7 linked regions of the Homo sapiens genome follow. The protein of the gene in region 5 purifies or fractionates together with the protein of the main gene of each other region. This does not show direct contact. Each region holds a gene or a part of one and is shown on either strand. Other genes may lie near its edges. The genes, in order: DBT, PALM, XRCC4, LYPLA1, MTRF1, ASB7 and MEIS1.

The links.
Region 1: the proteins of MTRF1 (region 5) and DBT purify together in Homo sapiens (affinity purification with mass spectrometry; one large-scale study listed by BioGRID and IntAct). This does not show direct contact.
Region 2: the proteins of MTRF1 (region 5) and PALM purify together in Homo sapiens (affinity purification with mass spectrometry; one large-scale study listed by BioGRID and IntAct). This does not show direct contact.
Region 3: the proteins of MTRF1 (region 5) and XRCC4 purify together in Homo sapiens (affinity purification with mass spectrometry; one large-scale study listed by BioGRID and IntAct). This does not show direct contact.
Region 4: the proteins of MTRF1 (region 5) and LYPLA1 purify together in Homo sapiens (affinity purification with mass spectrometry; one large-scale study listed by BioGRID and IntAct). This does not show direct contact.
Region 6: the proteins of MTRF1 (region 5) and ASB7 purify together in Homo sapiens (affinity purification with mass spectrometry; one large-scale study listed by BioGRID and IntAct). This does not show direct contact.
Region 7: the proteins of MTRF1 (region 5) and MEIS1 purify together in Homo sapiens (affinity purification with mass spectrometry; one large-scale study listed by BioGRID and IntAct). This does not show direct contact.

What each region holds. Positions count from the first base shown.
Region 1 is NC_000001.11:100,211,835-100,215,334, forward strand, and holds part of DBT (lipoamide acyltransferase component of branched-chain alpha-keto acid dehydrogenase complex, mitochondrial isoform 1 precursor), read right to left. Parts: intron 3,150-3,500; coding exon 2,983-3,149; intron 2,117-2,982; exon of another isoform or gene 1,389-2,116; intron 1-1,388. UniProt on the Homo sapiens protein: The branched-chain alpha-keto dehydrogenase complex catalyzes the overall conversion of alpha-keto acids to acyl-CoA and CO(2).
Region 2 is NC_000019.10:732,935-736,434, reverse strand, and holds part of PALM (paralemmin-1), read right to left. Parts: intron 2,263-3,500; coding exon 2,241-2,262; intron 417-2,240; coding exon 357-416; intron 1-356. UniProt on the Homo sapiens protein: Involved in plasma membrane dynamics and cell process formation. Isoform 1 and isoform 2 are necessary for axonal and dendritic filopodia induction, for dendritic spine maturation and synapse formation in a palmitoylation-dependent manner.
Region 3 is NC_000005.10:83,203,047-83,206,546, forward strand, and holds part of XRCC4 (DNA repair protein XRCC4), read left to right. Parts: intron 1-505; coding exon 506-661; intron 662-1,768; coding exon 1,769-1,875; intron 1,876-3,500.
Region 4 is NC_000008.11:54,095,448-54,098,947, forward strand, and holds part of LYPLA1 (acyl-protein thioesterase 1), read right to left. Parts: intron 1-3,500. UniProt on the Homo sapiens protein: Acts as an acyl-protein thioesterase. Hydrolyzes fatty acids from S-acylated cysteine residues in proteins such as trimeric G alpha proteins or HRAS.
Region 5 is NC_000013.11:41,250,077-41,253,576, forward strand, and holds part of MTRF1 (peptide chain release factor 1, mitochondrial), read right to left. Parts: intron 2,955-3,500; coding exon 2,873-2,954; intron 2,677-2,872; coding exon 2,569-2,676; intron 1-2,568. UniProt on the Homo sapiens protein: Mitochondrial peptide chain release factor that directs the termination of translation in response to the peptide chain non-canonical stop codons AGG and AGA.
Region 6 is NC_000015.10:100,630,089-100,633,588, reverse strand, and holds part of ASB7 (ankyrin repeat and SOCS box protein 7), read right to left. Parts: exon of another isoform or gene 3,380-3,500; intron 1-3,379. UniProt on the Homo sapiens protein: Probable substrate-recognition component of a SCF-like ECS (Elongin-Cullin-SOCS-box protein) E3 ubiquitin-protein ligase complex which mediates the ubiquitination and subsequent proteasomal degradation of target proteins.
Region 7 is NC_000002.12:66,564,125-66,567,624, reverse strand, and holds part of MEIS1 (homeobox protein Meis1), read right to left. Parts: intron 173-3,500; coding exon 114-172; intron 1-113. UniProt on the Homo sapiens protein: Acts as a transcriptional regulator of PAX6. Acts as a transcriptional activator of PF4 in complex with PBX1 or PBX2. Required for hematopoiesis, megakaryocyte lineage development and vascular patterning.

The sequences.
Region 1 (3,500 bases), on a different chromosome or scaffold from region 5:
GATCTCAGCTCACTGTAGCCTCAACGTCCTTGGCTCGAGTGACCCTCCTGCCTCAGCCTCCCGAGTAGCTGGAACTATAGGCGTGTGCCACCATGCCCAGGTAACTTTTGTATTTTTTGTAGAGATGGGGTTTCACCATGTTGCCCAGGCTGGTCTTGAACTCCTGAGCTCAAGCAATCTGCCTGCCTTGGCCTCCTAAAGTGTTGGGATTACAGTCGTGAGACACTGCGCCCAGCCAACTTGAAAGTTTTAGTAAGCATTTGATTCAATAACTGTAATTTTAATAGTCTTTATCTAAAAACCCCTAAGGTTAGTCTAAACTGTTACATATAAAAATATTTGAGTATAATCCAAATTTTGTCCAAGAAAATACAAGGTATGTGTCAATGGATTAGGTCATTTGTTCCCCCTCTACAATACTGTGTAGTATTTTTTCGAATGTTCTGAAACTTATGTTTTATTTTAAAACAAAATAGCCAGGCATGCTGGCTCATCCCTGTAAGACCAGCCTGGGCAGCACTGCGAGACACATCTCTACTAAGAATAAAAAAAAATTAGCCAGGTGTGGTGGTGCACACCTGTGGTTCCAGCTTCTCGGGAGGCTGAGGCAGAGGATCACTTGAACCCAGGAGTTCAAGGTTGCAGTGAGCTGTGATTGTGCCACTGCACTCCAGCAGCCTGGGCAACAAAGTGAACCCTTTCTAAAAAAAAAAAGAAGAAAGAAAGAAAAAGGGAGATAAAGAAGAATAGTTTCTGCCTCATGAGGCTCAGCGCCCAGTAAGTGAGTAAGTGAAGAGAAAACTGAGTAAGCACTCAATGCACTGAGATAAGTTAACAGTGGGAAACAAAAGTATTTAATTCAAATAGTGACAGCCACAGAAGGAGTCTGTACCTGACCACAGTTTGGGATTTGCAGGTGTTTGATCGAGAAGAACGGGCACTTCAGGTGGAATTGTGTATTCCAGCAATTATGGGTACCTTAATATGAGGGAGTGAGGTAAGAATGGAGAGGCAGGCAGCAGAGACTTATAACACATTTGTATGCCACACTAAGGAGTATGGCATACAAATTATCCTGAAGGTAATGAAAGGGAACCACTGAAAAGAATCAGAGAATATTACAGTAATTTGATTTACGGAAGACCAGTCTTGGTGCAGTGTAGAGAAAGGACTGGACATGTTGGCATTACAGACATCAGTATGTCCTTCTGAGTAAAACAGACCAGAACCTGAAAGAGCTTCTCCACCTGTTAGCTGTAAGTCCTTAACAAGTTTCTCAACCTCTCTGAGCCCCAATTTCCTTAAATGGAAAGTGGAGACAGTAATATTTACATGTCAGGGTTACTCTGAGAATTAAGAGATAATGGGCCCTGCCCCGCGTCTGCCTCAGAGGGGCCCGAGCCACCCGGGGCGTGCGCCGCGTCCCCGCCGGGGCCGACAGAGCCGAGCCGGGCCGCCATGGACCACAAGACTCTGCTGCAGGAGCGGCCGCCCGCCTACAACCTGGAGGCCGGCCAGGGCGACTACGCGTGAGGCCCGCACGGCTACGGCGCCATCCCCGCCGCGCCCCCGCAGCCGCCCTACTCCTACCTCGTCACACGGACACCCACCCACCATCCCAGGGTCTACAACATCCACAGCTGGACCGTCATCCGCTATCCTACCAACTCTATCGTGGTCGTGGGAGGCTGTCCCGTCTGCAGGGTCGGGGGGCTGCAGGACTGCTTCACCTTCCTGGGCATCTTCCTGGCCATCATCCTGTTCCCCTTTGGGTTCATTTGCTGTTTTGCCTTGAGGGAGCGAAGATGCCCCAACTGTGGAGCCACCTTCGCTTAAAGGGAACACCAGGCTCGGCCTTTCCTACACCCAGCTCTCTTTTTCTAATGTAAATGTTGTGTTCAATAGTTTTATTTGATTAAGCTTCAGGACTGTTTTGTAAAGCGAGGTGGGACCGATGTGGCACACGCCAGCTGCGGTTTCCCGGAGCGTGGAGAGGCAGCGCTGCTGCTCCTGCCCCAGGCTCATGACAACTCAATGAAGCACTGCTTTTATTTTTTGCAGTCTTCAATTTGAGAAAGGTGAGAAATAATCTTTTCAATAAATGAGATTCATACCAAAAAAAAAAAAAAAAAAGAGAGAGATAATGTATACAGCATGCTTACTATGGAGGCTGGCACATGGTAGCTGCTGCACAGTCACTAATGTGAGCTAGACTGTATGCTGCTCAAGGTTAGCTGATGGTCTTACTCCATTTTATACTGGTCCCAAGGCTTAGCACTAGAAATGATTCCCAGGATCCTCAATATAAGTTGGTTGAGTAAATGAAAATAAATATTAAATATATGTCAGTGATATTGCAAAATTAATATCAAGTCTCATTTTAGTTCAAACCAAGACTTGGTTGGAGTGATCCTTTTAGGATCAGAGGCTTTACTTAACTGGCAGAATTGTCTCTACCTAGCTCAAAGATAAGCAGCTAAAAATATAGTACAGAAATCTCAATTTTATAATTTCCTATTGAACAAAGAAATGGCACATTTTCTAACTATCTGATGTTGCGAAAAGTAATATTTTTATTCAAGGCCACAGTCAACATATTGCATGTTGGCAAAGCAAAATTTAAATGTCCTACTTGGGGCCAGGTATGGTGGCTCACGCCTGGAATTCCAGCACTTTGGGAGGCTGGGGCGGGGGTGGATCACCTGAGGTCAGGAGTTCAAGACCAGCCTGACCAACATGGCGAAACCACGTGTCTACTAAAAATACAAAATTAGCCAGGCGTGGTGGCAGGTGCCTGTATTCCCAGCTACTCAGGAGGCTAAGGCAAGAGAATTGTTTAAACCCGGAAGGTGGAGGTTGCAGTGAGCCGAGATTGTGCCATTGCACTCCAGCCTGGGTGACAAGAGCAAAACTCTGTCTCAAAAAGACAAACAAACAAATAAATGTCCTACTCAAGCCTTGTTTGAAATGAATGAATCTCACCTTTAAGAAGAAAGGCATAAAGGAGAGTTTAATTCCACGAGCAAATGCAATGGGTTTTAATTCTTCTCGGAGCTTAACCAGTTCAGTAAGGTCAATCTCATCACAATAACCAAAATGAGGTATCTTCAGGGCTGCAGACATAGTCTTGACCATTGCTTTTTGAAAGCCTGAAAAGCATTAAATTGTTATTCATTTATTTAAATTCTCAAATCTCTTCATCCTTTTTTTTTTTTTTAAAGAAACTAAAATGGAAGGTTCTCTAATGTCTTTTACTCTCTCAGTTAAACCCTTCCTCTTACTACTCTCTTCATTACATTACACTGAAAGTCACTAATTTCAAAGCTGGAACACTGACTGCATCATGACACTCAGTGGCAAATGCAATAACATAGCAGGTAACTGCTTTAAATGCTGTGTTATATAAAAAATTCAAAAGAATGCAAGCCATGTATTTCCCTAACAGCTTTCCTGCAAAGCCACTCTTCTGGAAGTTAATCATTCCAGGAGTTTATAAATAA
Region 2 (3,500 bases), on a different chromosome or scaffold from region 5:
ATTTGCAGCGAGCATGTTCAGGCGTGAGCGCCACCCCCAGCGGGCCCCAGGAGGGAGCCGTGAGATTAGGGTGGAATGAAAGCCGTGAGGTCGCGTCGGTTAGAGCCGCCATGCGTGGGGCCCGTCTTCTCGGGGAAGCGTGGGCCGGCGTGGGACCAGGGCAACAAAGCAGAGGGGGCCCCCACCCCAGGCTCGGAGCCTCGGCCTCGGTCCAGCTGCCACCCCCATAACCACGGCCCCGTCAGACGCTGCGGAGAGCAGGTCGGTGTCGCCCCCGCCCCACCCGGCCCCCCGGACCGAGACTTGGTCCCTGACAGCGGCTGGATCTGGGGCCCAGAGCCTGGGGGCCAACCCACCTGCCTTCATCATGGGGGAGCCGTCAACCGTCCTCAGGGGCGTGTTGGAGACTCGCTTGTCTGCACGGGAGGTGGAAGCGGAGAGAGAGATGAGGGTCAGAGGAGAGGTCACATGGACCCCCCAGACAGCCCAACGCCCCTTCACAGAAGTGCATCCGGACTCCCACATGCACCTGGGCCTTTGACACCCAGACCCCACCCAGACACAGGAACCTGGGCCCCCAGACACCCAGACAGGCACCTGGGCCCTCAGACACACAGATCCCACCCAGACACCCGGACACAGGCACCTGGGCCCCCAGACACCCAGACAGGCACCTGGGCCCTCAGACACACGGATCCCACCCAGACACCCAGACACAGGAACCTGGGCCCCCAGACACCCAGACAGGCACCTGGGCCCTCAGACACACGGATCCCACCCAGACACCCGGACACAGGCACCTGGGCCCCCAGACACCCAGACAGGCACCTGGGCCCTCAGACACACGGATCCCACCCAGACACCCAGACACAGGAACCTGGGCCCCCAGACACCCAGACAGGCACCTGGGCCCTCAGACACACAGATCCCACCCAGACACCCGGACACAGGCACCTGGGCCCCCAGACATCCAGACAGGCACCTGGGCCCTCAGACACACGGATCCCATCCAGACACCCGGACACAGGAACCTGGGCCCCCAGACATCCAGACAGGCACCTGGGCCCTCAGACACACAGATCCCACCCAGACACCCGGACACAGGCACCTGTGGGCCCCCAGACATCCAGACAAGCACCTGGGCCCCCAGACACACAGACCCCACCGAGACACCCAAACACAGGCACCTGGGCCCCCAGACACACAGACCCCACCCAGACACCAGGACACAGGCACCTGGGCCCCCAGACACACAGACCCCACCCAGACACCAGGACACAGGCACCTGGGCCCCCAGACACAGGCCCCGCACAGACACAGGCACCTGGACCCCCACCGCAACCCCTAGAAAATCCCACAGGCAGCCTCACAGTTCATTCCTCATCCTCAGCCCAGTGATTTTCACAAAATCCCTGAGAGGCCTGTCTGGATTTTTTTAATGATTAATTTTTAATTCTACAGTAAGACAAGAAGACACTCTCCTTATGAATAATTAACACACAACAAACCAGGCCAGAAGCACTTCAGACGCCAGCGTCAATCCCGGCTGGTGGCTGTCCCGCTATCGATACAGAAGCGGACACGTTCCGTGAAATGCAGTTTACAGACAGGGTCTCGCTCTGTCGCCCAGGCTGGGGTGCAGTGGTGCGATCACAGCTCAACCTCCTGGGCTCAAGTGATCCTCCCACCTCAGCCTCCCGAGCAGCTGGGACTACAGGCGTGCAGCACACACGGCTAATTTTTGTATTTTTAGTAGAGACGGGGTTTCACTATGTTGGCCAGGCTGGTCTTGAACTCCTGACCTCAAGGGATCCACCTGTCTCAGCCTCCCAGAGCGCTGGGGTTACAGGTCTGAGCCACTGGGCCTGGCCGGCGGCTAATTTTTTTATGTTTGGCAGAGACAGGGTCTCCCTGTGTTGCCCAGCATGCTCTTGAACTCCTGGGCTCAAGCGATCGATCCTCCTGCCTCAGCCTCCCAAAGTGCTGGGATTACAGGCATGAGCCACCACACCCGGCTAATTGTCTTTGCATTTTTTCAGTAGACACTGAGTTTCGCCATGTTGGTCAGGCTGGTCTCGAACTCCTGACCTCAGGAGATCTACCCGCCTCGGCCTCCCAAAGTGCTGGGATCACAGGCGTGAGGCACCGAGCAACTTTGTAGCTTCACTCCCCGCCCTGCCATCCCCTCTCTGGCCACCAGAGTGCGCCGAGGCCCCACGAGTTCCTTCCAGAGGTCCTACCTTTGGGCGTGCCCACCGGCGTCTGCAAGAAAGAAGAGAGAAGGGTCAGGGGCGTCAGCATCCCCGGGAAGAGGAAGGGGAGCCATGGGGTCAGGAGCCTGGGGAGGGCATGGCACAGTGGGTGACGTCATACGCACCCGCTTCTCATCCTATCCTCTTGGGACTCTGGCCAGAAACACAGAGGTCATCTTTCTTTTTTCTTTTTATTGAGATGGAGTTTCGCTCTTGTCGCCCAGGCCGGAGTGCAATGGGGCAATCTTGGCTCACTGCAACTTCCGCCTCCTGGGTTCAAGCGATTCTCGTGCCTCAGCCTCCCCAGTAGCTGGGGTTACAGGCCTGCGTCATCGCACCTGGCTAATTTTGTATTTTTAGTAGAGACGGGGTTTCTCCATGTTGGCCAGGCTGGTTTCGATCCCCTGACCTCAGGTGATCCACCCACCTCGGCCTCCCAAAGTGCCGGGATTACAGGCTGAGCCACCACGTCCGCTCCATCTCATTTCTTCCCTCCCTCCCCACATACCCCCGCATCAGCGGCTCCCGCAGGCCACCCTGAATCCAGCCGGCTCCTCCGTGCCCCCTCCAGTCTCGTCCACTCCTGCTCTCAAGCGATCCTCCTCCCTTGGCCTCCTGGGAGCCACTGTGCGAGGCTCAGGGTCTAGTGTCGCCTGTCTGAACCCGTTCTGCCCTGCATGGTCAGACCCTGCACACAGGCCCCTCTCCCTGAACTGTGCCCTGGCATCCCTGGTCTTCTTGCTGTTTCTGGGACACACTCCTGTCTCAGGGCTGTGGTGTCTGATGCTCCCTCAGTGCACTCTTCCCTCATCACGTCACTGGGTGTGCCCGTCAGGAAGGCAGGGGCCGTGCATGTGTATTGCTGAGTCTCCCATGACAGCACTAGTCCATGCTCAAACAACCTTCAGGGAAAAGCACCTGGAGAACTCCTATTCAACCTTCAAAACCCACTTCCTTGGCTGGGCACGGTGGCTCATGCCTCTAATCCCAGCACTTTGGGAGGCCGAGGCGGGCGGATCACCTGAGGTCAGGAGTTCGAGACCAGCCTGACCAACATGGCCAAACCCTGTCTCTACTAAAAATACAAAATTAGCTGGGCGTGGTGGCGGGCGCCTGCAATCCCAGATACTTAGGAGGCTAAGGCAGGAGAATCACTTGAACCCAGGAGGTAGAGGTTGCTGAAATCGTGCCATTGCACTCCAGCCTGGGTAACAAGAGTGAAACTCTGTCTCAAAAAAAAAAACACAA
Region 3 (3,500 bases), on a different chromosome or scaffold from region 5:
TGTGTGTGGTGCTCGCTTATAAGAATATAACTGGATAAGTCGTGTTCTTGTTGTGGAGCAGTTTGTTGTCTAGTAGATAAATCAGACAAATTAGCTATGTTGCCTTATCACAAAATAAGATTGTAGTTGCTTTTATAGTAATATTAACATAGTACTGAGGAAACAGGCTACATTTACTCTTGTTTGAAATTTATCCCATAAAAACATTCTTTTGTAAATAAACCATATGTATCAATAAATTATCTTTAGGCATTTTGATTTTCTAAAGGCTTATTTGTATCAGTTTTCAATTTTGATCCTTATCTCAGTAAATAAATTACATTAATAACCAATAATTTCTAATTGTGTATTTAACCATCTTTATAAAACTTCCAAGTCAGTGAAAGCATATGTGAAAATAATCTTTAATTGTATTTTCCTTGAAATCTTCTTGATTATTAGGCTGAATTATGTTAATGCTAAGCAGAACTGCATGACTAATTTGTTTACTTATTTACTTTTTTAGATTTGAAAAATGTGTGAGTGCTAAGGAAGCTTTGGAGACTGATCTTTATAAGCGGTTTATTCTGGTGTTGAATGAGAAGAAAACAAAAATCAGAAGTTTGCATAATAAATTATTAAATGCAGCTCAAGAACGAGAAAAGGACATCAAACAAGAAGGGTATTTTCGCTATCTTGTTTTTGGATGACAGATGAATACATTTAAGTGGAATTTCTTCCCAAAGTTAATGAACATTAGATGCCAACTTTTTGATCATATGAGATAATTTGGTAGTCTGGATGTGGATGTTCAGGCTGTTAGATAGGGGTACCATGGGCTAGAGAGTTCTCAGCATGGTCTCTCTATGTCTGCTCAACTGTGTCACCTACACTTAAATTAAAAAACTGACATGAGGCTTATTAAAGTATTATTTAATTCTTAGACATTAGTAAGACATACTAATTTAAAAAAAAACTTTCATCTGCAGAACTACAAAAGTTGGATGCATATTTGTAATCTTGATGTCTAGGCAATGATTAACTTTAGAATCAAGTGGTTAATATTAAATTCCAGGGAGCACTTATTTTATCTGATTAGAGTGTGATTATCAGTTTTATTCTTCTTTCACATATTCTCTGAAAGTACATATGTACTTGATTTTTATGGAAGAATCCTAAGTGACAAATGGCTGATACGGCTTTCGACGATTATAACTTTTTTACGCATTAGCAAATACAAGTTAGGGTCTGTTGCTTTGAATCTTAGTAGAAGTACAGAATTACCAGTGACGTAGTATAAAAAAATTTGATATCAGCTAGTCCTAGCACAGGTACTGGTCTTGCAGTCATACCTATTAGTTTATAGCTTTGGACAAGTCACTTTATCTTCATAATAAAGGTAAAGATACCCATCTTAGGGTTTTGCAGAGATCAAATGAAATGCGAACTGTTCTGAGATTAGTAAAATGTTAAATACTCTGTGACTCACAGAGATAATTTGTTAGAAAAAGTATTTTGATGGAAGAATAGTACCTGATAAGAAACTGATTTAATATTAATTATAATAAGTACTAAATTCAGATTAAAATTAGGTAAAAGAGAAACTTGTTCTTAAGAGAGTTAATATATAGGTTTTAAGATGCTTTCATCTAAATCATATATATTTTCAATATGTTTGTCTAATTAGAATCTTTTTCTAGGAATATTTTCTATAATTGCTTACTGATAAATCTGCTGCCTAGCAGGGGGTGAGCCAGTTATTTATAATTCTACCTTTCTCTGTTTCTAGGGAAACTGCAATCTGTTCTGAAATGACTGCTGACCGAGATCCAGTCTATGATGAGAGTACTGATGAGGAAAGTGAAAACCAAACTGATCTCTCTGGGTTGGCTTCAGGTAAGAGATACATACATTTATCTCCTCTGTTGAATATCTTATTTGGGCTTCTTATTCTAATGACAAGAAACCATAATGGAAAAATGTTGTGAAAGACCTTATTCTATGAAAATTCTTTAGCATTTTTATTTTAAAAACTCAAATTTTTAATGTTAAAACTTAATATTATTTGTAAAATGCAGCAACTCATTAGCACAGCAGTGTGAGCAAGCATTCATACACATATACTCCAAGGTATACTATTCCTGGTTAAATATAACCAGGAAAAGCATAAGCAATGAGGAAGAAACACCTTTATGCTAAATATCATCAGCTTAAAGCTGGTTGCCTTTAACATTTGAGATCTTATTTAGCTAAAGCCATGAATAGGCCACTGGAGCAGAGTAATCAAGAATGCTCTAAATTATACTGAAGTTGAGGCCTTCTTTCACTCTTCAGAAAAAAGATTGCAACAAGTGAGATGTAATAGAGGAAAAGAGAAGGGGAAAAATGGCAGTTTAGTACAAAGTACCTATGACTTACTCAGTCCTTTGGATCAAGTTCCCAGCAAGTGTTTAAACCCATGAGTTATTTTTTAAAATGTTTTATAGATTTCCTAGTGACGGTGGAAACAGGAGCCTCTGAACTCATTTTATACTTAGATGGTTTTGACCTAAAACCAATACTATTAAAATAAATGCTTGATTTATTTATTTAGAAAATATTTTTGAGTTCCTATTATGTACTAGAAACTTTGCTATGCATTAGACAGCAAAACACAAAAATCTGTGCCATTGTGGAGTTTAAATTGTAGTCAGGGAAACATATAAGATGAATAAATATAAAATATGTTAGGTTGATAAGTGCTAAAGAGAAAAATAAACCAGAGAAGGCGTTAGAAAGGTCAGGGTGAGAATAAGGATGAGGGTTATGATTTTAGCCAGACTATCAGAAAAGGCCTCAGTGAGAAGGTGAAGGTGACATGCTGTCTTGGGGAAGACCATGCCAAACAGAAAACAAAAACAAAAACAAAAACAAAAAAACACTAAGTACAAAGTTCCTGACGCGTTTAAGCAATACTATAGAGTGTAATCTGGATAAAGTAGAAAGATGAAGACTGGGAGAATTAGGAAATGAGATGAGAGAGATGATGGGACCTCATCACGTGTAGGGCGATATAGGCTACCATTAGAACTTCTCCTGTTACTTTGAATTAACTTGGAAACTACTGAAGGATTTTAAACAGTCAGGTGACATAATCTGACTCAAATTTCAAGAGGATTAGTCTGTGTATTGTGTTAAGAATAGACTATAGGATGACAAATGCAGAAGAAGATATAACAGATGGGAAGCTAGTACAACAATTCGGTGAAGGATGAGGCTGGCTTAGACCAGAGTGATGGAGAGGCGATGAGCAAGGAGCAGATTCTAGGTGTGCTTAGAGGCAGCAGGATTTGCTGATGAAGGGGTTATGACTGAGCAAATAAGACTGAGAAGGAGCAGCCAGGAGGTAAGAGGCAAAAATATAAATGTGGTATCCTGCTGATTGATGGATTTAGCAATACAAACGTTATTAAGGATCTTAATAGAACATATTCACTGGATTGGTGAAGGAAGGGGATAGGAGAGAATAGGAGTTTCAAAGG
Region 4 (3,500 bases), on a different chromosome or scaffold from region 5:
ATGTTATAATATCAAGGTATCTCCCCACAAAATATTTTTTAATATTTTAATTACATATTCAATATTTTAAATATTTCATATGTTATATTTATTATTTTAATGTGGAGAAACCTGGCAGACACCATCTTAACCAAGTGATAAAACACATCAGTAACAACAAAATCATCATGAGGTCTGCCTAATATGATGCACTGTTATGGACACAGCAATACCCCTATAGTGTTACTGTCAAAAAGGTATAAATCACAAAACATCAGATAAACCCAAACTGAGGGACATTCTACAAAGTAACTGGCTTACACTTTTTTTTTTTTTTTTTGGTAGACACAGGGTCTGGCTGTTGCCCAGGCTGGTCTCAAACAGCTGGGCTCAAGCGATTCTCATGCTCAGCTTCCCAAAGCACTGGTATTACCATACCCGGCCTGTATTCTTGACAAAGTGTCAAGGTCATGAAAGACAAGGACTGTTTCAGAATAAAGAAAACTAAAGAGAAATGATAAGTAGAGGCAATATGTGATCCTAGACTGATAAAGGACATTATTGGCTCAAATCAATGAAATGTGAATGGAGCTGGTGGATTAGACCGTAGTATACCATCAGTGTTAACTTCTTAATGATGGTTATACTGGAGTGTCCTGGTACTTAAAAATGTACACTGAAGAATTAAGCTGTAATGAGGCAACACGCCTGCAACTTATTCTTTAATAGTTCAGAAATATTAACAATTGGGTAATTTGGGTGAAAGGTATAAGGAGCTATAAATGTTATTTCTGCAACTTTTATGTAAATTTCAAGTTATTTAAAATGAAAAGTTAAAAAGTTTAAAACATAACAGAATAGAACATAACCTATTAAATAAATCTGAGTCCAGGCATGACACAGTGGTTCATGCCTGTAATTCCAGGGAGGGACTGGGAGGCCGAAGTGGGCAAATCACTTGAGGTCAGGAGTTCGAGACCAGCTTGGCCAACATGGCAAAACCCCGTCTCTACTAAAACTACAAAAATCTGACTGGACACTATGGCTCACGCCTGTAATCCCAGCACTTTGGGAGGCTGAGGAGGGCAGATTACGAGGTCAGGAGTTTGAGATCAGCCTGACCAACATGGTGAAACCCCCCCGTCTCTACTAAAAATACAAAAAAAATTAGCCAGGCGTGGTGGCACGTGCCTGTAATCCCAGCTACTCATGAGGCTGAGGCAGGAGACTCACTTGAACTCAGGAGGCAGAGGTTGCAGTGAGCCAAGATCACGCCACTACACTCCAGCCTGGACGACAGGGCGAGACAAGGTCTCAAAAAAAAAAAAAAAAATTAGCCGGGTGTGGCGGCACGCACCTATAGTCCCAGCTACTTGGGAGGCTGAGGCAGCAGAACTGCTTGAACCTGGGAGGTGGAGGTTCAGTGAGCCGAGATTGCACCACTGCACTCCAGCCTGGCTGGGTGACAGAGCGAGATTCTGTCTCAAAAAATAAACAAATAAATAAATAAATAGAAAATAAATCTGAGTCCATACTAACTAAATGGGGAGTAGCAGATTAATAAACAAAATGGAATGACAAAAAAAAAGGAATGACAGAATTGGAAAATCACACTGTAGAAATGATTGACTCAAGCAATTATCAATGGATGATAAAAATATTGGGTGAAAGCTTGATGAACAACTTGCATAGTCACAAAGTATCCCCCCGCAACTTGCTTTTTAATTACAAAAGGAAAGTAACTGCAGTCGAGACCTGGAAGATACCACCTTAATCAAAAGATCGAAGTTACAACAATAAAAGGACTCAGCATCATTAGTCTACTGATGCGCGCAATGAATAGGACATATTGTTTACATGGTATTTATACCAGAAATGCATAAACTGAATCTAATCATGAGTAAATACACAAACCCAAATTAAAGGACTAGCCTGTTCTCTGCAGAAGTGTCAATGTCGTGAAAGACAAAAGAAAATCTAGGGAATTGTTCCAGATTAAAAGAGACAAAAGAGACTAAAGAGACGTGATAACTAAATATAATGTATGACTAGGGAGGAGATAGCTATAAAGGATATTAATGGAACAATCTGGCAAAGGTTGAATGCATAATATATTAGATAATACTAAATGTTAAATTTAATGGGATAACTTTTCTGTGATTATATAATGTTTAAAATACCCTAGTCCTTCTCACCCACAGTTTTGTTTTCCATGGTTTCAGCTGCCCACAGTCAACTGTGGTTCGAAAATATTACATGGAAAATTCCAGAAATAAACAGTGGGGGATGCTCTAAAACCCCTAGTGGATGCCTGAATCCATGGATAACACCAAACCCTATATATACTATGTTTTTTCCTATACATAATGCTTGTGATAAAGTTTATTGTGTAAATTAGACATAGGAAGAGATTAACAATAATAAAACAATTATAACAATATGACAACATCACTTCTCTTGCACTTTGGGGCCATCATTAAGCAATGTAAGGCTTATTTGGATAAAAGCACTACAGGCTGGGCGAGGTGGCTCATGCCTGTATTCCCAGCACTTTGGGAGGCCAAGGCGGGCAGATCGCTTGAGGTCAAGAGTTCCAGACTGGCCTGGCCAACATGATGAAACCCCGTCTCTACTAAAAATACAAAAATTAGCCGGGTGTGGTGGTGCACGCCTGTAGTCCCAGCTACTCAGGAGGCTGAGGCAGGAGAGTTGCTTGAACCTGGAGAGTGGAGGTTGCAGTGAGCCATGATTGTGTCACTGCATTCCAGCCTGGGTGACAGAGCAAGACTCTGTCTCAAAAAAAAAAGCAAAACAATACCAAAACAGTTGACCTGATAACCCAGATGGCTACCAAGTGACTAACAGATGGTGAATGGATATAGCATGGATACGCTAGGTAAAGGAATGATTCGTGTCCTGGGTGAGACGGAATGAGATTTCATCACAATACTCAGAATGGTGTACAATTCAGGCCAGGCATGGTGGCTCATGCCTGTAATCCCAGCACTGCGGGAGGCCGAGGTGGGTGGATCACTAGAGGTCAGGAGTTCAAGACCACCCTGGCCAACATGGCAAAACCCCATCTCTACTAAAAATACAAAAAAATTAGCTGGACGTGGTAGCACGCGCCTGTAATCTCAGCTACGCCGGAGGCCGAGGCACAAGAATCACTTGAACCCGAGTGGCAGAGGTTGAAGGGAGCCGAGATCGTGCCACTGCACTCCAGCCTGGGTGACAGAGTGAGACTCCATCTCAAAAAATAATAATAAAATAAATAAAAAAGAATGGTGTACAATTTTAAACTTATAAAGTATTTCTGGAATTTTTCATTTAGTATTTTCAAACCACAGTTAACCACGGGTAACTGAAACCATGGGAAGCAAAACTGCAGGTAAGGGGAGACTACAATATCTTAAGTATTAAATTGCCACTTGTCAGGCTGACAGGTTCGAAGTTTCATCATGCACTCATGGAACCAATCTAGAGTCAGCCTTTCCTTAGCATTATCCCACCAAATAATT
Region 5 (3,500 bases):
GAACAGAATCTCTCTTCCTGTTATTGAGGTTATCTCCCTTTTATTCTTGAAAGTCTCATTCGAAATACACCTATCAGAGTTCACTCAGGATATTTTCTACTACTCTCCTTTTCATAATGCTGCTGTTTCTTCTTACATTCTCCTTGAAACTCTCTCCTCTTTTGCTTCCATAATATTTTACTGTCCTCATCCTTTTTCTGATTATCTTGAATCCTCTTTTTATTTTGCTAACTGGTCTATCCTTCTAAACATGGCCATTCTCCAAAGCTTGTTGCCCTGAATGCTCTCTCTCTATAGACTCTCCCTCACTTATTCTCTCAGTATCAGACATTATCTCTGAGCTGACAGGTATCAAATAGCTTGCCTGAGTTCTGTTGTCTCACCAAAGATCTGGTTACTCAATTTCAATATTTACTCCAAATTTTTTTTTTTTTTTGAGACTGAGTCTTACTCTATCGCCCAGGCTGAGTGCAGTGGTGTGATCTCGACTCACTGCAACCCGTGCCTCCTGGGTTCAAATGATTCTCGTGCCTCAGCCTCCCGAGTAGCTGAGATTACAGGTGTGCACCACCACACCCAGCTAATTTTTGTATTGTTAGTACAGACGGGGTTTTACCATGTTGGTCAGGCTGGTCTCGAACTGTCTCCCGAAGTGCTGGGATTATAGGCGTGAGCCACTGTGCCCAGCCTATTTACTGACTATTTCTAAGTGGATGCTCACTATAACCTCAAACTTAATGATTCAAAAACCATTCATCATTATTCTTTCCAAATGGTTTCTGCCTTCCAACTTCTATTCCATTCAATGGCATGAATGAGTATCACAGTCTTCTCAGCTAGAAAGATTAGACTCCCTGTGGCTCATCTCCTTTGTGTCAGAATAGAATAATGGGATATAGTGCAGCTCTGGATCAAACAGACTAAAATGTAATCCCAGGATTGCCATTACTTATTGTGTGGTCTTGGATTAGTTACTTACTCTCTGAGCCTAGATCCTCATCTGTAAAATGAGATTAGTAATATCTATTTCACAAGGGTGTGAAGTTGTGCACACAAGACATACTGGATAAACAACAGCCCCTCTCACATCTAGTTACTTAGCAAATTATGCCTATTCATCCTTTGCAGGTCTCTGACAGATAATTCTACTCCCCATTCTAACTCTTAGTCATATCTGGATTACTCTAATAACCTCTTTGCAGTCTGCACTAAATCTAGCCTTTCCATCCATCCATCCATCCATCCATCACTATTGTCAAAATAATCTCCTTAAAATATATATCTTATCAAATCATATTCTTATTAATGCAATTTTCAACAGCTTCCTATTGCCCATCAATCAAAGCTGTTCAAAATCTATCCACTCAAACCTACTTCAGCGATTACTTCCCTGACAAGCTATGGGTAAACTGGCCTCCCCACCACTCCCTTCCCCACACACCAAGACCTCTCCCACCAGCATGCTGCTGCTCAGGTTGTTTCTTCTCTCTGCTCTCATGGATAATCCCCTTTCCTGACCACTGGTTGTATCTGAAATCTGTACCAGGTACAACTTCCTTATGCTGTAGGCTGGTTCTTATTTCCCTTTACTGCTCAACTTACATGAATCCTCTCTCCCCACTTTGATAGTTTGTGGTTTATTACTGATGACTCCTCTGTCTACTACAATGTATCACTGTGTAACCAAGCAGAGGAAAACTTTCAGATGGATTAAAAGAATGAGACAAATGAGAGAATTATTATCATGTTTTCAATCAATATACTTGAGTATTTAAAGGTAAAGAACTGCACTGTTTGTCTATGTTGTATCATTTTTTTTTTTTGAGACAGTCTCACTTTGTTGCCCAGGCTGGAGTGTACTGGTGTGATCTTGGCTCACTGCAACCTCCCCATCCCGGGTTCAAGCGATTCTCCTGCCTCAGCCTCTCGAGTATTTGGGACTACAGGCACGTGCCACCATGCCCAGTTAATTTTTGTATTTTTAGTACAGTCAGGGTTTTGCCATGTTGGCCAGGCTGGTCTCAAACTCCTGACCTCAGGTGATCCACCCATCTTGGCCTCCCAGAGTGCTGGGATTACAGGCGTGAACCATAGTGCCCAGCCATTATAAATTTTTATCAGCCAAAAGAGAAGTTTCTTGAAAATAAAGACAAATGATTAACTTTTTCCGCATTCTCATAAAAATCAAACACATTAGCCACTTAGTCTAATTAGTAATACTTATATTATTTTATAAAGTTATTTAAAGTAAAAACCTTAATATACCTTTGCTTTCAATAATAGAGAAAAATGATTTTGAGGCAAGATACGTATCTAAGTTCCTCAGGGGAATTTTCTCTAATTCACATATTTCTCCCTAAGCAAATGCTTCCCTCCTTTCTACTGTCTTCTCCTAGCTAACAACTCTGCTATAATAGTAAGCCACTGTGATTGATGAGCCTATGCCACAGTGTTTAGTAGATATACACCAAAAGTTTCAAAAAAAAATGGGACAATATGGTTCTAATCAAGATCAGAGGTAAAATAATTTTCAGTATCTCCTACAGGCAAATTCCTCAATATGCCTACCATAATCTGCTGGTGTATAATTCAGAAGTTCAAATTGCCAGTGTTTATAGCACGAATAATTCTGGTACATGTCAAATATTTCTCGGGTAAATTGTTGGCAGATGTCACCTAAAACAAAATACGAAAAATATTTAGTCAGGACAAATTTCGGAAAGCCACCCTTAAGACTAAGTCCTTTAGGAAATAAAGAATAACTATTTCCAAATTTAAATACATTTAATGGACTTTTAAAGTTAGTGTTATCAAATAAGGTAAAATTCAAGGACTTTTTAGATCATTTAAATAATAAAGTAAGTTTACTGACCTCCAGTAGTCCTTCCAGCTGTCACCTCTAAAATAACATCATTTTTGTCATATTTCTCCTTTGGCACAAGGCTCTGGAAAAGCTGGAATAAAAATCAGCATTTGTGTGTATATTTTCCCCGGTACACTATTACTGAATTAAATAAAGGCCCGAAAAACATTGAAAAAAATCAATAATTGGCAAAATCATATAGTATCCCAAACAGGGTATTCCAAAAATGCTATAATAAGTAGAACTAATTAGACCTAAAATAGGTGATCAATTCATGTTAACAATGGAGTTACTTGTCAGTATATTTTCTGCACTGTTATCAGATTATCTTAATTTTCTAGAATGCAGAAGTTCAGATCAAAGTCCAGGGTGTTCCATTCAATTTTCTTCAGATTTTGGCGCTTATAATTAGTTCTGAACAGTAGCTTCTTTCATCTAATGAATGAAGCAAGGCTTTGAAAGTCTTCACTTTGAGAAATGATTTCATATTATCTTCTGCTATAACTGACAGCAGACACCAGCCATGCTGTGCCTTCTCAGCAGAGACGCTCTAATTAAAGACTATGTTGAGGGCTCCCAAGATAAGGCTCAAAATGAGTTTCTCAGCTGTGACCAGAAAGAAAAAGGGCTTCCTAAT
Region 6 (3,500 bases), on a different chromosome or scaffold from region 5:
TCTTTTTTTTCTTGAGAGAGTTTCACTCTTGTCACCCAGGCCGGAGTGCAGTAGCACAATCTTGGCTCACTGCAACCTCTGCCTCCTGGGTTCAAGCGATTCTCCTGCCTCAGCCTTCCAAGTAACTGGGATTACAGGCATGTGCCACCATGCCCGGCTAATTTTTGTATTTTTAGTAGAGATGGGGTTTCACCACGTTGGCCAGGCTGGCCTCAAACTCCTGACCTCAGGTGACCCACCCGCCTCAGCCTCCCAAAGTGCTAGGATTACAGGCATGAGCCACTGCGCCCAGCCGTCACTACCATTTCTACTTGACATCGGTCACACCTTCACTGTTCTCTCTTTAATTTATTCATTCCATTCTTTTTTTTTTTTTTTTGGCTACAAGTAAAAAACCAAAAACTGGCTTCTTATAAACACTGCCAACTAAGCAGGACGCAGCTTTCCTCCCACAGGTGGCGCTCATTATTCAGGCAGGTGCTATGGCTCCTCTTAGCTGTGTTTATCATTCCTGGGCACAGAGAAGTGGCTCCTCCATGGATGGGCCCTGCTGCGCTCCTGACGTCCTGGAAGGGGGAGGTTCTGAGGTCTGAATGCTGGACAGCGGGCTGGCTGTAGGGAACAGCAACAGCAGCTCTTCATGGCCTCTCCCCCTACTCAGCACTAACAAGTCACAAGCAGATGTTAGTTTATTACCAAGCCACGGGTGCGCTCTGTTTTTTTTTTTTTTTTGCACTATATAGATCAGAGTTTTTACGGCAATTTTTCCAAAAGGCCAGAGGAGTTTTTAAATTCTGGTATTATAATTTTTTTGGTCTCTTCCAATTTAAATAATCTGTTTCTAGGCAAAACAGTGTGATGAAGAGTAAAATGTCCCTGAATGAAGACCACCATGTGGCCCCTCTGCTGTCCTTATACCTCGGCAGTCTGCGATCTCCAATCATAAGCCAACAGCATGATGCCTGGGGCTGCGGTGCCCACAGCACGCGGGCTAGAAGAAGCTCTCAGCTTTGATTTAGTGCTCCCTGAACCAACCAACCTTCTTTCAAGCTGCTTTTCATGAGAAAGCTCAGTCCAGAGCATCAGCCACAGCTGCTCCTTCTAGCCCATATTGTTCACCAGGAAAAGAAAACCTATTTAGAGCCAAAGAACACACAGGTGAAGCAGAAACACCAAATTTGCTTTTGGCAGGAAACACCACTGGAGAGTCAAGAAATACTAAATTATGTTGAGGCACCTGAAGACAAAGGACAACTGGAGCCTTAACAGACGGAGGACCCTGCACTCAGGAAAGCAGCCTGTGCTTCCTCAGTCCCCACCCCTCGCTGTGCGCAGTCAGCCAGACTGCCAGGACTACTGAGGACCTCCTAGGCGCACAGCTCTGCTCCTCGTACAGTGGAGAACCTAAGCACAGACAGAGGCAGTCCCCACTGACATTTCTATCTGCTCAAATTTTAAAGTGCATGTGAGTCTTTAACTCAACATTCCTGCTGTCCAACAGCACTGCTAGGGGCAGCTCTGAGGGCTCAGGGACACACGGCAGCCGCCCACGTGCTTGTCCTGCCCAGCGGCTCCTCTCGGCCACGTGGCTGCGTGCCTCCATGTACAGACTCTGGACAGTTGTATACAGGGTTGAAACTGGGAGGCTTGAGTTGAATATGAATCTAAAGATTTGCTCTGTTGGTGGCAAGCCAGTCCTCGCTGTTAATCCCCCCTCACTTTATTAGTTACACACTTCACCTTGAAAAACAATTACAAAGAACAAGAACATTTTAAGTGTTAAGTGCATTATAAATATTAACTCATTTAATCCTCATAACAAGCCTGTATTATCTTAATTTGAAGGTGAGGACACTAAGGCACAGAGAGATTAGGCGACCTGCCCAAGGTCACAGCTAACATGGGATAGAGTTAAGGCTCAAACTCTTGCAGTCTAGCTCTAGTCTATGCCATTAACCACTGAACAAAGTATTTTAAAAAAGGGGGCTGAGGCATTTAAGTGAGTATATAACATGCCTTCCTAAGGGCGGCCACACTCATCATAACTAAGTCTCTAATGTAGAAGTTGAGAGAACAACAACAAGGCAAGCAGGACTGCAGCACTGCGGGTATCACGTCTCCCAACTGTGGCGACTTCTGTGTGTCTCAGAAGCTTTCTGCAATGGAACACCCACCAGTCAGCCCCAGATACCTCTCCCAAGGCAGGCAGATCTGTGTGGACCAACAAAGGAACCACCAGGCACTTGTGGCCATTTAAACTTAAATCGCAATTAAATAAAATTGAAATTTCAGTTCCTCAGTGGCAACGGTCACATTAATAGGTGCTCAGCAGCCACATGGGACCAGTGGCTACTATACTGGACAGCAAGGAGAGACCATTTCCAACATCACAGAAACTGGTACTGGCCAGCACTAAGTAGACTAAGCAGTGTGATTTTTTCTTACGCTTTAGTCTGAAAACATTAGTGATAATAATTGCATCTTTTCTTCCATGAATCTGCAAAATTCAAATTACATTTTGTTTCTTCATAAAGCAAATGTGTACTCCAAAGGCCCGCTCCAAGGGGTAGAGTGGGTTACTTACAAGCAGGTCAGGTAGAGCCCTTGCCCTCTAGTAGCTGGTACCCAGGATGTTAATATGTCCTCTTGTATAATAATGACCGAAGGCTCAAAACCAGTGAGGAAAAAGGAACTCATTAAAAAGTTCAGCAGACAGCAAAATCCATTTTGTTTACAGATTTTAGCTTCATGGTGGACATTAAGCATGAGACACACATTCAACTGGTCACGTGGAAGCTTGACAAGAGAGGATGGCTAAGTACACACAAGCTGATACCCCATCAGAGGAACAACTAGGACGCACGCGTTACTACACAAAGTGGGCCAGACACTTCCAGGCTTTAAAAAAAGCACCCACACAAAAACGTTCAAATACAATGGAAGCCATGTGGTCCAGGGACAGTGGTGCCAAACTTCCCACTGCAAATATTTTCTTACAACAATTTCTAGCATCCTTAACTTCCACGAGTGGTATCCCTAAATACACAGCACCACTGCTCCATTTCATGTGGGCTCTCATGAAGCAGAAAAGCCACAATTAAAACGTGAACAACTTAGCAATAAAGCACAAATTCTAGGATATTTTCACAGGTAAGGAATCTAAGATCCAAAATTCCCCCTCTAACTCCTCAACTTGCAGTCAATGGAAGCCAGGTAAGATTATCCTTATGACCAACAGGAATTGCCTTGTTCTAACACAGATCTTTGTTCATTTAAAAAAAATTCTCCTCTCTGTCCTTCTCTCCATTCCTTCCCTCACTCTTACTGTCTACCCCTATTACATTTAGAAACACAATTGAATTTTTATGAAATCTTGTGATACAGTCAAAGTTTTTTTTTTATTTCAGAAGAATGAGGCATCGCTTACCAAGCAGTGGTTATAGGAATGATTAATATCTAGTCATCTTAAGTTGCAAAAACACATTAAGCTCCTCAGAAGA
Region 7 (3,500 bases), on a different chromosome or scaffold from region 5:
GGCGTTCCTATACTCACTCCCAGTTTATTTACCAGGTAGCGGACCTCCCGGTGAATGGCTTGAGGATGGTTTTCGCTTGCGTGACTTGAATACAGTCACTATGGGGGACTTGCCTGCTCGGTTGGACTGGTCTATCATGGGCTGCACTATTCTTCTCCGGGCATTAATAAACCTGTAACCAAGAAAGTGAAACAAATCGTTATTCCTTAAAAATAAAAGGGGGGGTTGAGGAAGAGGAAAAGATGAATCGCAGTTGGAGTAAAACTAGATCTTGGCAAAATGGGACTCCTTCAGTTCTCTCCATTGCTCTATGTGCAGCCTCACGTGCTGGAAAACCTGTAACCCCCAGTGACCTTTGAGTACACAGGCTTGGGGTTTCTGAGTTGATTTATGTTTGCCTGTTTTACCACAGTTGGACACTTCCATTTCATCTTTTCATGGGGGAATTAGCAGAGTTTTCAGGAAACAATACTAGCCACCACTCCTTTCATTTGCAAAGAGAGAAAATTGGTGTAAAGAGTTAGATGCTCATAAGGGCATCTGTTACCTCTCCTAATTAGTGACATTTCAATCTTATGTTCTCTGACTTCTTTTGTACAATTTTTATCAAAACCACCCCTACCTCTTGCAAACCTAATTCTATTTTAATGCCCACTATTAAGATAATGAACTGGGATGGCAGCACACCATCAAATGAGAGAATGTCTGGAGTTTATCACCACTAACTCACACTGCTTAGGACTTCAGAGAAATGCATTCCTTGTAGAGATTTCTTGGGGTGGCTTTTTTTGTTGTTGTTGTTTTTTTTTTTTTTGCTCTTTATGTAAAGTCTGAGGTCAAGGCAAGGTCACAGATATACAGTAATTGAACTTATAGTTTTGCTTTCTCCAGCTAGTACTGAAAATTTATAAACATCTTATTAAGGCACTTAAGTTACTTTAAGTGCCTTAATAAGATAGTTTTGTACAATTATTTTTGTAGCCTCTCCAAAAGTGACAAGTCACTGACATGTAAAAAAGTATTAATATACGCTCTCCAGAGTCATACGCATGAGATTCTCTTAAGATCCGTTTGTTCTGCATAATATTAAAAATTACGTATCAAATCCAGAAAATGAAGAGGACATATTAGATTCTGAAATAGTAAATTCCTTTTAGTTCCCAACTCAGATCAAATCTGAGCAGGACATAAAAAATACAATGAAAAGTTTAATAAGGCTCTATTAATGATTAAAGGATCCATAGTCCAGTATGAATTCTAGTTTGTAAATCTGCCCACTTCAGGAAGGAAAATAGTTCCTAAAAACCAAACCATTAAACAGACAGGGACAGGTTTTCAAAACAAAAATGCATACTTCATAACATTTTAAGATTCTCAATATCCTGTATCCTTGTGTTCTTTCATTATCTGAGAAGTAATTGAAACAAATAATGAAACTAGAATCTAACTAAAAGGTATACTGTTTGTGCTAATTCTTGTTGGCAATACATATTATATCAGTTCTTGTATATGAAGTCCCTGAACTGCTAATAAAAATATTTAAAACACAGGTCTACAACAAATTGTGTTGCAAATCAGGTTATCATTATCTTGTATAAACCATGAAAACTGGAATCATGTGAGCAGAAGGTTAGATTAATTCTCCATTCTCATTATAAGCACAGGTGTAGCACAAACACCATGTGAAATAACCAATTAAAATGAAAAAAAATCTGTTTTTTCATTAGCTGCCTTCACTGCATGACCAATTAGAAAATTATTTAATATTAATATTCTGCATATACCAAAAGTAATTTTCATAGTAACTAATGTAGGTAAGAGAGCAAAAACATCTCTTTATCTATGGTACTGTTCATTATCTGCAGACTCTTAGAGGGAAGGAATTCTGTCTATTAACTTTCTTTTTCCAGACTTTTTAAAAACATAATCTTTTATGGATGTGACTTATACTACTTACCTAAAAATAGGAAGAGACATTTTTAACAGATGAGAAGCCTGGGCTCAGAGAAATTAGGTGACTTCTTTGAGGTCACATGTTACCAAAGAGATGTTAATAATTTGCTAAATGACACACAGCTGTCAGTGGTAGCAAGCACCCTCCTCCCTGGTGCTCTGGCACAGTGACTAGAGCACCGCAACTATAGTGCCACTCATCTAGAATATCCAGACTAAATAGATATATAAAAATTAGCTGGTTTCAAGCCAATTACCACTGGCAGCAACCCCAGTGTTTAGTCAAGGAAGAAGCATGACTGTGAACATTTTGTAAATTGAAAATTTTGATGGCTGCACTGTTTGTGTGTATAGGCAAAGATAAGGCTATTCAAAGAGAGAGAGAGAGAGTGAATACAGTGACTTGATTTATCTGTATTCCAAAACTTGTCTCCATCATATTCACATATTGAGACTCCCATAAACTAATTCATAATAATCAACTCAGGTTTGAGTCTATGACTATTAAAGTCGTGAGTTCATTTTTAAAAATTACACCTCAGGTTTCAAAAGGGCTGTAATGGTCACTTCGTTTGGTCACTGACATGAATCCCCTATATGATATCTGTCCCCCAAAAGTACATAGGTAACCTCTGCTGAACTAATACAGCACTCACCACCTTACTTAAGAGGCCACCCCATCTATAAACAAGGCTGTTAGAAGGTTCTGCCTTACTAGATCAAAAATATTTATGTTGGTGCAAAAGTAATTGCGGTCTTGCCATTACTTTCAGTGGCAAAAACAACAATTACAGGGGGAGGGGGAAGGGATAGCATTAGGAGATATACCTAATGTAAATGACGAGTTAATGGGGGCAGCACACCAACATGGCACATGTATACATATGTAACAAACCTGCACGTTGTGCACATGTACCCTAGAACTTAAAGTATAATTAAAAAAAAAAAAAACAATTACTTTTGCACCCAACCTAATAGTTTTATCAGCACAACTCCTTGGGGTACTGTAAGCAATTCTAATTTTACTTCCACAGGATAGCCCTTCAAATAGTTAAACATAGCCATTATGCTTTATAGCCTTCTCCCCTCTAATCCTTAGGTTAAACATTAGTGATTCTTAAAAAGTGCCTGCTAGAATGTGAGTCCTTCTAGGATATTGAGTCCATTCAATACCTGGACCACTCTCTGCTCAGTAGGCTGATCTTTGTCTATGTCCTCCTGAAGCCTTGCAGTGGACAACACCAACGACATTTATTCCAGGCCTGCTCTGATCCCCAGGTAGAAAGCAAATACACACAAAAAATACCACAGCCTCTTAGCCAACTGCCCACAGGTACTAGATGTTATTTGCTTCTTTTTGGTGGCAAGAACTGTTTGTTGTTATTAAGAACACAGATGTCAGCTACCCCTAGAATGTGTAGATATCAAAGGGGGAAACCTTTAATTAAAAAATAAAACATAAACAAAAACACTGAAAACCTGAGAAAAACTAATCACCTTTTCTGAGCTGTTTGACCACATTAGTAGGTCTACCTGCAACTTCTTAC